2 separate regions of the Homo sapiens genome follow, and region 2 is linked to region 1. Evidence: fine-mapped expression QTL. A gene starts in region 1. The other region holds a variant in brackets. All regions are shown on one strand. Distances are from middle to middle.

Region 1 (2,912 bases):
ATGAATGACCCAGGGATCTGCTCTAGATCGTATCTCCTAAGTGGAGATACAATGAGGACTTTTCTCACCTCATTGTCTCATCTGCAAAAAATATGCTTGCACAGTGATCTGAAATGTCCTTTTCAGTGTTTAAAAATTTTACAAAACTATTTTATGTCGTGTAAACGGTTTTATAAATCCATTTCCTGCAGTGTTTTCATCTAGGAACCACAAAACTTTAGGAGCTGCATTGGTCCACCCTCTGTGACCAACTGTTTAGCAAAAAAGATCATAGTTCTTAATATGACCGGGATAAGGCTGATTTTCATCCTACCTACCTTAATTTCATTGTGGCAATAACAGAACTAGTGTTTTCAATACTGACACTATATCTTAATAAATAATTATATATTATTAGAACTTATATAAAACCAGGTTTGCTGGAAATCAGGTTCTCAGTTGCAAAAATGAGATCACCAAATCATTCGGTACTTTTTTTTTCTTGGTTTTCCTAAGCCCAGGCCAGGTTGCTAATTAGGTAACTTTTTATCATAATTACCTAGTCAGCCTTAATGGCTTCACACACTCTGCTCCGTTTCACTGGTCCTGTAGGGCCGCTTTTTCAATTGTTAAAACAGCTGCTGAGTTTCAAATCGGAGGAGGCTCGGTCTGCGCCGAGGGGGAAGCGCTCCCTGAGTGAAGGCTGTGATAGGCAGGCGTTCGGGTGAAAAGTGGGACATGAATGCACAGTTTGCACACTCTGCTTTCCGCCTCCAACCACCAACCTTCTGGATTTAACACGTCCCCCTCCCTGCCCCCAGATCAACCCCAGAGTTTCCCTCTATTGTGCACCCCGGTCTGCTTGACAGTGTGATGGTCCCGCGTGCGCGTCTCCTGGGTTTTGCAGCTTTGTCGGGGGCTCGGTGGGCCTCCTTCATTCTCCCCGAGTGGCGCTAAGGTTAGGACAGCAGCGTGTCCCTCGCGATGCCGCCCGCGAGGGTCCTGTTTGGGGAGCGCTGGGTCGCTGAGCAGGGTGGTGTGTGTGTGAGAGAAAGAGAGGGAGGGAGGGCTACAGGGAGAGAGAAAAGGAGGGAGAGGGTGTCTGTGTGTGAGTGTGTGTATGTGTATGAGTGTGTGTGTGTGTGTGTGTGTGTGCGTGCGCGCTGGCGCGCAGCGGGAGGGAGAGAAGGAGGGACGGAGGGGGAGGCAACGGGCAGAGGAGGGAGGGGGCGGGCGGGCAGCGGTGAGGCGGGAGGGGTTAGGGCTGGGAGGGGAAGAGACTCCGGGCTTCAGCAGTGACACTCGGGAGCGAACACACACTCCCCACTTCCAGCCGCGAGAGAGTGGAGCTAACTGAGCAGCGCACCCGCCACGGCCGCTGCCGCCCCGTGCGCCCGGCTCTCCCAGCACCCCGCGCGGCGCTCCAGCCAGGCGCCTGTGCGACTAGCGGCGGCCGGCGAAGCCCGCGCCAGCCCCGCGGGTCGCTGCGGCATCCTCCCGCCGCCCAGCCCCCGCACGCTCCCTGCAGTTTAAAAGGACCTCCCGCCGCTTCTCGGCGCTGCCCCGGGATTCCCCAGCCCCGCGCGGCTCCCTACTCCACTTCGCAGCAACTTCGGCGACCGCGCGCCGCCCGCCCTCGCCCGCCTTTGAAGTTTGCTGTGCCGACCGCAAAGTTGGGACACTTCAGCGGATTGAATTTTTCTCTTTTATCTGCCTCCGTCCCCGCCCTCCAGGCTTCTCGTTCCTGGATATTGGTGCTTAGCATCTTGGCAGGGTCCGGGGACGTGGACTATTTCGCACACCACACCACGGGGAGGGATTTTTTTCTATTTTCCCTACGAAAAACAGATCTTTTTAAGGTAAGTGGGGAGAGGAAAGCAATGCCCCAGAGACCCGACGCCTTAGCCCGCCACCCTGAGACCTAGCACAAGGAGCGTTCACGCCCGAAGGGTCATCCGAGATGGGGGCTCGAGGCACGCGCCCCCAAATCTTCAAGGCCCAAGAAGCTTCTCAAGGGCGCCCTATCCGTAGGAGCTGAGGGCATGAGGGGCAGGAGCAGGTTTCCCTCGTTTTTTTTTTTTTATTGTTGTTGTTGTTTGTTTGTTTGTTTGTTTTTAATTTAGCTGCTTTCGAAGCTGGGCGGCCCGGAGAGATGTGAGGAGGTGGACAGACAGCGCAAGGGCGGGGAAGACCTGGGACCCGGGAGCTCGGGGTGCAGTGGGGTCTGGGGAGCCGCGGAGCCTTTATCCCGGACTTAGCCTGGACACTTACTTTGCCCGCCTGCCAAGAGGGCTGTTGCCTCCCTTTCCAGGTTCATGCCCTCCGCCCGCCGCTAGGGAAAGTCTGCGGGACTGGGGTTTTGCAGAGGGCGTCTGCGTGTAGGGCGAAAAGCTAGAGGTCCAGGCAGCGCACGAGTTCTTGGTGGGCGTCTGGGAGCTGCGCAGCCGGGGCCGGGAGTTCGGTTGGCCCGACCCCCAACCGCTCTGGCTCCTCATTTGTCCTCTGCGTGGTAGGCGAGCATCGTTATAGAAACTTCCTTGGGCTGAGCGAGGTGGCCTGGGACCGGCTCATACTTTCTTCCGGAGAGCAGAGCGGCCACCGAGGTGACGCCCCCTACGGCCCCAGCCAGGAGACTCGGCTTCGTGCCCTCGTCCTGTCTGTGCGTGAGTTGGGGTTCGCTCTCACCCGCGCTACCTTTCTAACTGAGCGGAGTCGCCGCGGCCCCGATAACCTAGGAGTCCGAACGAGTGATTGCAGGTCCCAGCTGTTTTCTTGGAGGCACTTTGCAAACTGCTGAATTTGGAGTGCGGTTTCGTTGCATTGTGCGCTCTCGGTTCACCTTTCTGCCCGCACCCTATCCCAGGCCCAGGCGTGAGAGCTCCCGGCAGTTCCCCGGACCCGCCCCGCATCAGCTCCTCGGAGTTTGCCGCGGG
Region 2 (2,912 bases), 1.0 Mb after region 1:
CATTTAAATTATCTCATGTAATACTCAGAAAAATTATATGTGACAAGTACTATTGTTACATCCATTTTACCGATAAGGAAAATAACTCCTATATAATTCTTCTTAAATTGTCCAGATAGTCTGCTTCTAAGAAGTTTCTCTGGAACATGCTAGGCTAACATCTTTTTTTGACATATCTGCATGTGATCTCTGCTGTTGGTAGATTGCTTGGAGATTCCTGCTTCTTTTAGACAAGACCATGACACTCCCTCATTATGCAACCAGTAATAAAGTTTTTTTTTTTTATGTGATCTAAGTGGACTTTTATGACAGGATTTGTTGAAACCCCTAAGATGGCTTTTATTCTGTGCTTTGGGCAGTGGTAAATAGATGGGGTTCAAGAGTCTGGAGCACTCCTTCCCAATAAGAATGTATTTTCCTTACAGGATTGTTCTGCAAAGTCCATTATAAAGAATGATAGCTCACGCCGGGCATGGCGGCTCACACTTGTAATCCCAGCACTTTGGGAGGTCAAGGTGGGTGAATCACTTGAGGCCAGGAGTGCAAGACCATCGAAACCTTGTCTCCACTAAAAAATACAACAATTAGCTGGGTGTGATGGTGCATGCATGTAATCCCAGCTACACAGGAGGCTGAGGAATAAGGATCACTTGAACCTGAGAGGCGATGATTGCAGTGAGCTGAGATGGTGCCACCACGCTCCAGCCTGGGTGAAAGAGCAAGACTCTGTCTCAGAAAAAAAAAAAAAAAAAAAAGAATGATACTTCAAATTTCCACATAGGCATGCAGGTCAGCCATCCTAACTAGGTCTATTCCATATTTACCTAGAAGAGAGGACAAGCACGGAACACTACTATTCCCAACTCAGGTGCCTCATCCCCTAATCAATAAGGTTTCTGCAAACATCCTCAAAATCAGTGGCTTCCAAAGTGGAATATATGCAAAAAACAATCCTTTTGGGAGTATAGGAAGGAATGTTACAACTTCTATTTAATTTATGTTTTAACCTAGGAAAATAAGCTTTACTAAAAAAATGGATTTCAAAAAATGGACTGACATTGCACACTCACACAGTCTCCATGTCAGAAGGTCACGTTCTTACTCATATGTGGAAGTTAAAAAAGTTGATCCCACAGAAGTAAAAAGTACAACAGAGAATACTAGAGGCTGGGAAGGGTAGGCGGAAAGAGAGGACAGAGAGATTTGTTAAAGGAAACAAAATTACAGCTAGATAAGAGTAAGTTCTAGTGTTCTACAGCACTTGTAGGATGACTACATCCTACAAGTTAATAATAGTTTAAAATAGCTAGAATGGGGATATTGAATGTTTGAAACACAAAGAAATTATAAATGTTTAAGATGATAGATAGGCTGATTACCCTGATCTGATCACTATACATTGTATAGACCACAACATCACTATGCACCCTGTAAATATGTACAATTATTATTTGTCAGTTTTAAAAATTTAGAAAAAAAAGGGAGTCATAGGCCATGATTGGTACCCTGAGGAAATGCAAGTCAGCTGTGCCAGATTTACTGGCTCTTTCTCTTTGCAGTACTGTGCTAACAAGAACTTCAGAAAAATTAACATTCTTCCATTCCGTTTTTCAAAAGACACTCATGTTATGGAAGGAGCACGTTTGAATAAACTTTTTTTTTTTTTTGAGATGGAGTCTCGCTCTGTCACCCAGGTTGGAATGCAGTGGCACGATCTCAGCTCACTGCAAGCTCCAGCTCCCGGGTTCATGCCATTCTCCTGCCTCAGCCTCCTGAGTAGCTGGGACTACAGGTGCCC[G/A]CCACCACACCCGGCTAATTTTTTGTATTTTTTTTTTTTTTACAGGGTTTCACTGTGTTAGCCAGGATGGTCTCAATCTCCTGACCTCGTCATCCGCCCTCCTCAGCCTCCCAAAGTGCTGGGATTACAGGCATGAGCCACCGCACCTGGCCTGGATAAACTATTTTTTAAAAAAGTCTCATCTGTACAATTGAAAAGTTTGGAAACAGAGTTCTCTAAACTATAATTTTTCTAAATTACAAATTAGTTCCAAAACTAACTAAAAGGTCAAACAATGCATTTAATTAGTTCCCAAACTAATAGGAAGGTATTGTTTTGATATTTTTTTAAAAAAAAAAGGGTTAAAAAACTGCTTAAACCATTGTTTTTGAACACATTCATTAAAATTATTAAAATATCATATGTCACTTTTTAACCAGCTTGTAAGAACACCTAATTGGTACCATTAAATTGAAATTTAATAATCCCTTTTCAGCAAAAACTTTGCATAATTGCTAATACAGGTAAATAAAAAGAATAAGAAGTCAACAATGTACTTTCTTCCATTTGGACCTTCATATCTTTGTGGTGTATCTCTTTTAGCTCTGCTGGCCAAAAAACACAAACCCCCCAAAACAAACAAAAAAACTATTAAAATAAGCTGAATTATTAGACTTGTAAACCACTCTTTCAAAAATAATTAAACCATGATTTTTAAAAGCAATGAAACATATTCACTGCAAAAATCTTAATATGGTTATTAATATATTTAGTGAAAGTAAAAATAATTTATTTTCTAATAATATAAACAGAATTATTTTAAAAGTATTTCTCATCTTTCTTAATTTCGAACAACTGGTATGATTTAAACACATATGCTATACCTAACACTGTGGAAAATGTTTATAATTTAGAGATAAATAACCAACATTTACATAAGTATATTCATAACTTTTTCTGTTACTGATAGTACACACTATTTTGGAAAACAAGACCTTTGAGAAAGAGAAGAGAAAGGTGCATTCACATTTCCAGATTGCTTCAAATAATCTCCCTACAAGTTCCAGTCTCCCAGGAGGTACAGGCAAGTGTACTTGGGGCATAAGTAGAACTATGACCTGCCTTTCCCACACTC

Alleles and levels. Positions count from the first base shown, and alleles are read on the strand shown. Sizes are in standard deviations (SD) of each study's normalised expression.
For the expression in tibial artery of the gene that starts at base 1,296 in region 1, G is the low allele of the variant in region 2 and A is the other (small effect, 0.21 SD a copy in GTEx).

The links. PIP is the estimated chance that this variant, and not a neighbour inherited with it, causes the effect. A credible set is the group of variants that fine-mapping cannot tell apart.
Region 2: its variant is the best candidate, but not a certain one, in a credible set for the expression of NDNF in tibial artery (GTEx, PIP 0.56).

The regions. Positions count from the first base shown.
Region 1 is chr4:121,070,919-121,073,830 of GRCh38, reverse strand. It overlaps NDNF (neuron derived neurotrophic factor), which reads left to right and starts at 1,296. Exons shown (of 4, transcript NM_024574.4): 1 at 1,296-1,838. It overlaps NDNF-AS1 (NDNF antisense RNA 1), which reads right to left and starts at 2,469. Exons shown (of 3, transcript NR_187407.1): 1 at 2,251-2,469; 2 at 1-81.
Region 2 is chr4:120,074,569-120,077,480 of GRCh38, reverse strand. All of the region lies in intron 1 of MAD2L1-DT (MAD2L1 divergent transcript), which reads right to left. Among named protein-coding and RNA genes, the nearest start is that of MAD2L1-DT, 9.1 kb to the right of the region's middle. The variant G/A (reference allele first, on the strand shown) is at 1,799.